2 separate regions of the Homo sapiens genome follow, and region 1 is linked to region 2. Evidence: fine-mapped expression QTL. A gene starts in region 2. The other region holds a variant in brackets. All regions are shown on one strand. Distances are from middle to middle.

Region 1 (5,373 bases), 120 kb before region 2:
GGTTTCAAAAATTACCAAGAGCTCAATTCGGAGTCTTTGTTGTTTGCCTGACTATAAGCAACGAACCAACTAATATGTTAGGCTACTATATGATGAAACGGAGTTGGGGGTGGAGGTTGTGTTTTAGAATCTCAGTCCCAGGCAGGTCTTGCCTGTTAGCTAACACTTTCAGGGCCTGGGGCAAGAGTATGAATGAAGACCCATATATGATGTCTACATATTTAGTTATAAATCACACTAACAAGCTATTAAATGAAGTATATTGTATTATCCTGTCTTGACAAACTCGCCTTCTTCATAACCACCTGGAAGGCCTGGATCAAATTTGAAATTTTCACACTCCTTAGGAGTTCTGTGCCAGATTAAGGCACATCGGGAAAGCTGGCCCCCATCCGTGCCCACTTCTCTTCCCATGCCTGGCTCTGTCCCACAATACTGGTGGCTCTGCACTTGAGTGTAGCTACCCAGCTCATCCTTTCTCACCAAACCCCCACGTCTCTGGCCTAAGCATTCAGACATTGTGACAAGGCCTGCACTGCACAGGCAGAACAGGGAAGCAGCCCACAAAAAGTCCTGAGAAGCTTGGGGTTGTCTGGGCAGGAGATTTCAGGGGTCCCAGGTATCCAGAGTGTGGTCTACAACTGAGGGAAGAAAGCCACAGGTGACAGCCAGAAGTGGGCACAGGACCCCAACCAGGCCAATCAGATTCTCTCTCCTGGGAACTGAAAATGTGAAAGTTGGAATGCAGAGATGCAGATACACATAATGACAATGCTCTAAAGGGAAAGGCCACAAATTCCTAATGCCTCTGGGATTGCCCAGTGGCCCTGGTCTTTACTACTCCTCTCAGATAACAGTAGTTATTCAGTGCTTCTTACACTCCACTTAACAATCCTTTTGGTTCAAACTAACTCATAACAATTAAAAACAAAACAAAACTTAACCAAGCTGCCTAATCTGTAGCAGCAGATGCAAAAGGTGGTACCTGTCTTACCCACTCCACTGGCATTACGCTTATAAAGAAAAAATACACCCGACAATGCCTTCAGGGAATCAGGAGTCTTTCAGGTGAGGCACCCACAGTGTCTGCCAGGGAGTGGCATCCACTATCCACTGGAATGAACCCCTGAAAACAGGTAACTTACATACCTCCTCTCCTCCACTTCCTCAGCTCAAGAATACCTCTGCCTAGAATGCCTGAGCCACTCTTCTCCACCATCCTTCACATACATTTCTGGGCTTAAGGACTTCAATCAACAATCTAGTTAAGACTAATAACAAGGCCGGGTGCGGTGGCTCACACCTATAATCCCAGCACTTTGGGAGGCCAAGGTGGGTAGACCACCTGAGGTCAGGAGTTCGAGACCAGCCTGGCCAACATGGTGAAACCCCGTCTCCACTAAAAATATAAAAATTAGCCGGACATGGTGGCATGTGCCTGTAATCCCAGCTACTTGGGAGGCTGAGACAGGAGAATCGCTTGAACCCAGGAGGCTGAGGTTGCAGTGAGCCGAGATCACAATCAAACCACTGTACTCCAGCCTGGGCAAGAGAGCAAGACTCCGTCTCAAAAAAAAAAAAAAAAAAAAAAAAAGACTTGGCTCATGCCTGTAATCCCAGCACTTTGGGAGGCCAAGGTGAGTGGATCACAAGGTCTGGAGTTCGAGACCAGCCTGGCCAATATGGTGAAACTCCGTCTCTACTAAAAATACAAAAATTAGCCGGGCACTGTGGCTCACGCCTGTAATCCCAGCACTTTGGGAGGCTGAGGCAGGCGGATCACGAGGTCAGGAGATCGAGACCATCCTGGCTAACACGGTGAAACCCCCTCTCTACTAAAAATACAAAAATAAAATTAGCTGGGCGTGGTGGCAGGTGCCTGTAGTTCCATCTACTCAGGAGGCTGAGGCAGGAGAATCGCTTGAACCTGGGAGGCAGAGGTTGCAGTGAGCTGAGATCATGCCACTGCACTCCCGCCTGGGTGACAGAGAAAGACTCTGTCTCAAAAAAAAAAAAAAAAAAAAAAAAAAAGGTGAATTCTCCACATAGCCCATCAACCATCAAATTTGTTGTCAGGAGCCATTTAGCATAGTAGGAAACTGCAATAACCTCAATAACCTCAATACAATAGGTGACTGGTAAAATAGATTATGGCTAGGCAAGAAGAGGAAAAATGACACAGACATTTAAAATCACGCGCTCCAGGCCAGACGTGGTGGCTCATGCCTGTAATCCCAGCACTTTGGGAGGCCAAGGCGGGCGGATCACGAGGTCAGCAGATGGAGACCATCCTAGCTAACACGGTGAAACCCGTCTCTACTAAAAATACAAAAAATTAGCCGGGTGTGGTGGCGGGTGTCTGTAGTCCCAGCTACTCGGGAGGCTGAGGCAGGAGAATGGCGTGAACCCAGGAGGCAGAGCTTGCAGTGAGCCGAGATTGCGCCACTGCACTCCAGCCTGGGCGACAGATCGAGACTTCGTCTCAAAAAAATAAAAAAATAAAAATAAAATAAAATCATGTGCTCCAAAGCAGATTTGGGGAATGCTTATTGAGTGAAAAAAGCAAAAGACAAAACCATGTACATATATATACACATATACAAGCCAGGTGCAATGGCTCACGCCTGTAATCCCAAAACTTTGGGAGGCCGATGTGGGCGGATCACCTGAGGTCAGGAGTTCGAGACCAGCCTGGCGAACAAGGTGAAAACGCCCTCTACTTAAAATACAAAACTTAGCCGGGTGTGGTAGCACAAGCCTGTAATCCCAGCTACTCGGGAGGCTGAGGCCAGAGGATCACTTGAACCTGGGAGACGGAGATCACGCCACTGCGCTCCAGCCTGGGCAATAAAGCAAGACTCTGTCTCTAAATAAATAAATGGCACAGTACTTGCATATACTCTACGTGCATCCTCCCATATACTTTATTTATTTATTTATTTTTGAGATAGAGTCTTGCTCTGTCGCCCAGGCTGGAGTGCAACGGTGCGATCTTGGCTCACTGCAACCTCTGCCTCCCAAGTTCAAGTGATTCTCCTGCCTCAGCCTCCTGAGTAGCTGGGATTACAGGTGTGAGCCACCATGCCCAGCTAATTTTGTATTTCTGTTAGAGATGGGGTTTCACCATGTTGGCCAGGCTGGTCTCCAACTCCTGACCTCAAGTGATCCACCCGCCTTGGCCTCCCAAAGTGCTGGGATTTCAGGCGTGAGGCACTG[C/T]GCCTGGCCTCCCATATACTTTAAATCATCTCTAGATTACTTATAATACCTAATGGAATTGCTATGTAAACAGTTGTTATATTGTATTGCTTAGGGAATAATGACAAGAAAAAAAGTCTGTACATGTTTGGTACAGATAGACGCAATGTTTTTTCCCAAATATTTTATTATTAACATAATTTCAATTTTCTTTTTTTTTTTTTGGATGTACTCCAAGCACACTAAAGATTTTTGATCCACAGTTGGTTGAATCCATGAATGTGAAGCCCATTAATAAGGAGAGCTAACTATATATATTATCTGTATTAAACAGTGCCCCAATTTTGTTGTATATACATAGAAAAATACTGAAAGGAAGGTTATAGTTATCATTTGGTAGTAGGATTAACATTTCATTAACTTGTTCTGCATTTTCCACATTTGGAATTATGAACTTATTTTACTTAAAAAAAAATTTTTTTTTGAGACAGTGTGTTGCTCTGTCACCCAGGATGTACTACAGTGGCACAATCTCAGCTCACTGCTGCCTACACTTGCCAGGCTCAGGCAATCCTCCCGCCTCAGCTTCCCCAGTAGCTGAGACCACTGGCACGTGCTACCACGCCCAGCTAATTTTTGTATTTTTGGTAGAGAAGGGGTTTTAGCCACATTGCCCAGGCTGGTCTCAAACTCCTGGGCTCAAGTGATGTGCCCACTTTGGCTTCCCAAAGTGCTGGGATTACAGGCATGAGCCACTGCACCCAGCCTTATTTTACTTCTTAAATCAGGCCTAACAGTAACAAGTAATATAATTCTGCATATAAAGATGAATATAATCCCCAGGTCCTACCCAATCAAAATTCCTGGGGTAGGGGGTGGGGAGGGTAGAGGGACCAAGAATCTTTAAAAAGCTTTAACAAAGTATTCTAACAAATGACAACCATAATCAAAACACATTTTTCACACTCAGCAGAATGGAAAAAAAACGCCTGAAGTTACCAAATGTTACTGATACATAATGTTGGTTCTAGAATATAAATTGATAAAACCACTTGAGAGTAACTTAACGGGGTCTGGTAAAGCTGAAAATGCCCTTATCTTAATTTTACTCCCAGGTATATACCCAAGAGAAATTAACACAATTGCCCAAGGAGATCATCTATACACACACAAACAAAATGCTTATGCAGCACAATTTGTAACAGCAAATTATGAGCATACCCAAATGCTTATAAATAGAAAAATGGATATAAAATAGTAATGTATTTACACAACAAAGACTCTAGCAAAAAACAAAAATAAAAACAAAACAAAAACCAAAAAGAAATGCCCTGCAGGGCTGTCCAAGAGAACTAGCTGTGATGATGGAACAGAATGTAATCTGTGCTATGCAATACAGATGCCAATGGCCACATGTGCTTACTGGCCACTTGAAATGTGACCAGTGAGACTGAGGAACTAAATATTTGATTTGATTTGATTTTAATTAATTTAAACAGCCAGCTGTGGCTAGTGGCTACCAAAATGGACAGCAAAGCCCTAGAACAACATATAAACAGATGGCCTCACAAACGTGTTGCTTCTCCTTAAAAGCAGGTGGCACCATGCATACAATATAAAACCAATTTTTAAGAAGATAAAAAGCATGCAAAGCAATTCTATGTGTTGCTTGGAAATACATACATAAGTAGTAAGAAGAAATGCATAGGAATGAGAAACCCAACTGAGGAGGGTGGTAACTTCTGTTGGAGGGACAGCCAGAGGGCCTCACCATACCAGTAATGTTTGATGCTTCAAATTGAGTGGTAGGTCTATGATGGTGAGCGAAATCATTCTTAATTTATGCCTAAAATATTGTATAATAAGTTCCATGTCATTGTTTAGATTTATAAACACGTGATAAAACAGGAAGTCAAGCAGGGCTGTATCTGCCCCTTCCAGGTGTCTTTTTTAATCCACACAAATGTACCAGCAGCTCTGGGGTTACTTACCTGGTGAGGGTACAGGGAGAAGAAGTAGAAGATAGAGAAACAGCATACAGATTGGTACAAAAGTACCAAAAATATTTGTGTTTTTAAGGCGGATAGTGTTTGTTTTGTTCCATTATCTGCATTGATGCTGCATATCTTCTTTTGTGCATTAAATGTCACAATAAAAAAAATATAGGCTGGGTACGGT
Region 2 (5,373 bases):
CTCTCTGATCCACCTGATATTCACCCCATTTCCCCATATTTCCTTCTTTCCTGTTCCTCACTCTGATCACGCTTGATTTATTGATGGCAGTTCCACCAGGCCTAATCGCCACACACCAGCAAAGGCAGGCTATGCTATAGTACAAGCCATGAGCCCGCCTCTTAGAACCTCTCATTTCCTTTCCATCGTGGAAATCTGTCCTCAAGGAAATCACTTCTCAGTGTTCCATCTGCTGTTCTACTACTCCTCAGGGATTATTCAGGCCCCCTCCCTTCCCTACACATCAAGCTCAGGGATTTGCCCCCACCCAGGACTGGCAAATTAGCTTTACTCAACATGCCCCGAGTCAGGAAACCAAAATACCTCTTAGTCTAGGCAGACACTTTCACTGGATAGGTACAGGCCTTTTCTACAAGGTCTGAGAAGGCCACCGCAGTCATTTCTTCCCTTCTGTCAGACATAATTCCTCAGTTTAGCCTTCCCACCTCTATACAGTCTGATAACAGACCAGCCTTTATTAGTCAAATCAGCCAAGCAGTTTTTCAGGCTCTTAGTATTCAGTGAAACCTTTATATCCCTTACGGTCCTCTGTCTTCAAGAAAAGTAGAACGGACTAAAGGTCTTTTAAAAACACACCTCACCAAGCTCAGCCACCAACTTAAAAAGGACTGGACAATACTTTTACCTCTTTTGCTTCTCAGAATGCTGCAGGGTACAGCCTATTTGAGCTCCTGTATGGACAATCCTTTTTATTAGGCCCCAGTCTCATTCCAGACACCGGACCAACTTAGACTGTGCCCCAAAAAAACTTGTCATCCCTACTATTTTCTGTCTAGTCATACTCCTATTCTCCGTTCTCAACTACTCATACGTGCCCTGCTCTTGTTTACACTGCTGGTTTACACTGTTTCTCCAAGCCATCACAGCTGATATCTCCTCATGCTATCCCCAAACTGCCACTCTTAACTCCTGAAGTAAACAAATAATCTTTGCTGGCAGGACTATGCTGAATCTCCTTAGGCACTCTCTAATCAGATGTCCTAGGTCCTCCCAATTCTTAGACCTTTTATACCTGTTTTTCTCCTTCTCTTATTCCATTTAGTTTTTCAATTCATACAAAACTGTACCCAGGCCATCACCAATACTTCTACACAACAAATGTTTCTTCTAACAACCCCACAATATCACCCCTTACCACAAAATCTTCCTTCAGCTTAATCTCTCCCACTTTAGGTTCGCACGCCGCCCCTAATCCTGCTTGAAGCAGCCCCGAGAAACATCGCCCATTCTCTCTCCATACCACCCCCCAAGACTTCAACACTATTTTGTTTTATTTTTCTTATTAATAAAAGAAGGCAGAAATGTCAGGCCTCTGAGCCCAAGCCAAGCCATCGCATCACCTGTGACTTGCACGTATACATCCAGATGGCCTGAAGTAACTGAAGATCCACAAAAGAAGTAAAAATAGCCTTAACTGATGACATTCCACCATTGTGATTTGTTCCTGCCCCACCTAACTGATCAATGTACTTTGTAATCTCCCCCACCCTTAAGAAGGTTCTTTGTAATTCTCCCCACCCTTGAGAATGTACTGTGTGAGATCCACCCCTGCCCGCAAAACATTGCTCTTAACTTCACCGCCTATCCCAAAACCTCTAAGAACTAATGATAATCCACCACCCTTTGCTGACTCTCTTTTCGGACTCAGCCTGCCTGCAGCCAGGTGAAATAAACAGCCATCTTGCTCACACAAAGCCTGTTTGGTGGTCTCTTCACATGGACGCGCATGAAACGATTCTCCTGCCTCAGCCTCACAAGTAGCTGGGATTACAGGTGCCTGCCACCATGCCTAATTTTTGTATTTTTAGTAGAGATGGGGTTTCACCATGTTGGTCAGGCTGGTCTCGAACTCCTGATCTCGTGATCTGCCCGCCTCAGACTCCCAAAGTGGTGGGATTACAGATGTGAGCCACCGTGCCTGGCCCGGGCTTGGATTTTATGAAGAGGAAAAGTAGGGGAGCTAGCAAGGGGGTTACACTTGAGGAGGGAGTTCAAATGGACTGCACTGCATAGCCTGCAGGCTTGCAATGAATGTGAAGCTTTAAATGGGATTAAGTGCAAATTGAAAATATTCCAGACACATTTTTCACATTCCTGGCTAGTGAAAAGGTTTATGCTGATGAGAGAAGGCAAAGCTGAATCCCGGAATGGGTTAGGGCAAAGAAAACAAATCTGTCTTAAAGAGACAGACCTGGCCGGGCACGGTGGCTCACGCCTGTAATCCCAGCACTTTTGGAGGCCGAGGCGGTTGGATCACTTGAGGTCAGGAGTTCGAGACCAGCCTGGCCAACATGGTGAAACCCTGTCTCTACTAAAGATACAAAAATTAGCTGGGCGTGGTGGCGCATGCCTATAATCCCAGCTACTCAGGAGGCTGACGCAGGAGAATCGCTTGAACCCGGGAGGTGGAGGTTGCAGTGAGCCGAGATCGCACCACTGCACTCCAGCCTGGGCGACAGAGCAAGACTCGGTCTCGGGGCGGGGAAAAAAAAGGAAGGAGGGAAGGAAGGAAGGAGGGGAGGGAAGGGAGGGAGGGAGGGAAAAAGAAAGAGAGAAAGAAAGAAAGAAGGAAAGAAAGAAAGAGAAAGAAAGAAAAAGAAAGAAAGAAAGAAAGAGAAAGAAAGAAAGAGAAACAACCAAGAAACAACTACAATAGGTGCTCGGCATGTACTCCGTTAAAAAAGATAGAATTAAAACTACAATTCCCAGCAGACATCTCGCCTGCGACTTCTGAATATCGGCTTTCCCCGAGCGCAATGATCGCTGGGATTCGTAGTCCGGTACAAAATCAAGGAGGGACGGGCACTACCGGCCTAGATGACAGAGGAGGGAATCACTGCCATTCCGACCAATGGACAGTTCACGCCGGACCTGAGTGGCGAGCGCATAGCCAATGGGTAAGCCATTCATCCTGAGTGACATGGGTTGCAACCTACCGGAGGCCGGTGGGGCGGTACGGCGCGCGGCGGCCGTAGTGCGAATCATGGGAGGCGGCTGGTGGTGGGCTCGGGCCGCTCGCCTTGCCCGTCTTCGCTTCCGGAGGTCGCTACTGCCGCCTCAGCGGCCCCGGAGCGGGGGCGCCCGGGGGTCCTTCGCCCCCGGCCACGGTCCCCGCGCCGGGGCTTCGCCGCCCCCAGTGTCCGAGCTGGATCGTGCGGACGCCTGGCTCCTCCGAAAAGCGCACGAGACAGGTCGGTGGCTAGGGGTGGGGGCGGTGCGGATGGGACGGGGGTCCCGGGCTCGCGTGGGACCTTGATGGGGCGGGGGCTTCTGCAGGAAACGGGGCCCGGGCTCGGCTCCGAGAAGGGCTTCAGTGTGAGCGCACGGAAGCGCAGACTGCAAGAGCGCAGGTGCCCGCAGAGGGGATGGGCTTGCGGGGAGGACGAGGACCCCGGGTAACGGGGCGCCGTAGGGATTGGAGGGGGTGGTAGGGTTGCGCGAGGCAGCCTCGTAGAATCGCGCCTGCCGTGGGGAGAGGGGCTTCAGGGAGAGCTTAGGGTCTGTGGAGTTGGGTACAAGATGGGTCCATCCCGATTGCAGAGGCCACCACTGTGCAGAGAGCGGGAGTGTGGATCCCCGCAGAAGAGGGGGAAGTTCAGGATTGGAGAAGGGGACAACCAATCGGGAGAAAGCTCTCTGCTGATTGGAGGGGGAGGTGATCTAGGCTGCAGAGGGCGGGGCTTGTGACGGAGGCGAGGTCCAGAATGGAGCGGACTGGCCATGTTTGTTTTTTTTTTAATTTTATTTTTTTAATGACGGTGTCTTGCTCTGTCACCGAGGCTGGACCGCAGTGGCGCAATCGTAGCCCACTGCAGCCTTGAACTCCTGGGCTCAAGCTATCCTCTTGCCTCAGCCTCCTGCTTAGCTGGAGCTACAGGCATACACCACCGCACCCAACTATTTTAATTTATGTAGAGACGGGGTCTTGCTTTGTTGCCCAGGCTGGTCTGAACTCTTGGGCTCAGAGAATCCTCCTGCCTTGGCTTCCCAAAGTGCTGGGATTATAGGTGTGAGTCACCTCACTAGGCCAGGACCGGGCATCTAGATATAGGGTGTGGTGGGCTGTTTGTAAAGGACGTGAATGGGGACGGACGTGGGTGGGATTGGCCCAGGCCATACTCGGTAGGACATGGATGGGATTGGCCCAGGCCATACTCGGTAGGAGATGGCGGCATTTGAAGGAAAAGAAGGGCGAGGCTGAAGAGCGGCCTGGATTAGGAAACAGTTTGTCCCAGAGTTCTGAGAAAGAAGTGAGTGGGCAGGCCGTGGGGGTACACGTAGAGGGAGGGGTTTGGCCAAGATGACTCCTCAGATGGAGGTTCTGCAACTTTGCCCCTAGATTGTCCTCCACATTCTGCAGGGACTATCTTGAATCCTTTATTTTTTTTGAGACGGAGTCTCACTCTGTCGCCCAGGCTGGAGTGCAGTGGCATGATCTTGGCTCGCTGCAACCTCTACCTCCTGGATTCAAGTGATTCTCCTCCCTCAGCTTCCTGAGTAGCTGGGACTACAAGCACGTGCTACCACACCCTGCTAATTTTAACATTTTTAGTAGAGACAGGGTTTGACTATGTTGGCCAGGCTGGTCTCAAACTCCTGACCTCATGATCCGCCTGCCTTGGCCTCCCAAAGTGCTGGGATTACAGGGGTGAGCCACCACACCCGGCCCTTGAATCCTTAGTGTTACAGAGTTTGGGGGAGAGGGGCACTGAGGTGGAGGCCAGAGAGGATGTGGGGGGATATGGTTAGGTGAGCGGCTTCCTGGAAGAGGTGAGGATTTGGGATGGGCTTGCCTTGCGGCTGGATGGGATGGGGTGAGCTGAAGGGAGGCCCCTCAGTTTGACTGGGTAAGGGGGATTGAGGAGGTAGGGTTGGGGGTGATGTTAATCCCCCCATGTCCCCCTCCCTCCAGCCTTCCTCTCCTGGTTCCGCAATGGCCTCCTGGCATCGGGCATCGGGGTCATCTCCTTCATGCAGAGTGACATGGGTCGGGAAGCAGCATATGGTGAGTGCAGACCCCCCCTCTCGCCCCACGGAACCAGGGAATGCAGAGCCCCTATCACCTGCCCTGGTGAGAGTAGACTCTCCTACCCCATCCCACTCCCAGTAGTAAGTATAGAACCCCCATTCTTCCCCCACCAGAAGACACCCCTCCCATAGGCACTAGGTCCATCTGAATGGGTGGCCCAGGACATGGTTATGGTCCCCTCCCCTCCGATCTGATTCTCAAAGATGCAGGCTAGCCCCTGGCACGGCCCTGCCTCTGTTCCTGTCTCCTCAACCCTGGCTTTGCTCCCAGACCATCCCCCGACC

Direction of the effects. Alleles are on the strand shown, and positions count from the first base shown. SD is a standard deviation of normalised expression in the study named.
For the expression in monocytes of the gene that starts at base 3,034 in region 2, T is the high allele of the variant in region 1 and C is the other (small effect, 0.40 SD a copy in Fairfax 2014).

What was found. PIP is the estimated chance that this variant, and not a neighbour inherited with it, causes the effect.
Region 1: its variant is the best candidate, but not a certain one, in a credible set for the expression of TMEM160 in monocytes (Fairfax 2014, PIP 0.67).

What each region holds. Positions count from the first base shown.
Region 1 is chr19:47,161,298-47,166,670 of GRCh38, reverse strand. All of the region lies in intron 5 of SAE1 (SUMO1 activating enzyme subunit 1), which reads right to left. LOC124904730 (a long non-coding RNA gene) reads right to left here. Exons shown (of 2, transcript XR_007067277.1): 2 at 3,363-5,373. Among named protein-coding and RNA genes, the nearest start is that of SAE1, 33 kb to the right of the region's middle. The variant C/T (reference allele first, on the strand shown) is at 3,217.
Region 2 is chr19:47,046,285-47,051,657 of GRCh38, reverse strand. It overlaps TMEM160 (transmembrane protein 160), which reads left to right and starts at 3,034. Exons shown (of 3, transcript NM_017854.2): 1 at 3,034-3,251; 2 at 4,973-5,065. The coding sequence starts at 3,044. RefSeq lists enhancers at 1,574-2,091, 2,092-2,609, 2,733-3,027, 3,537-3,606 and a silencer at 3,067-3,256.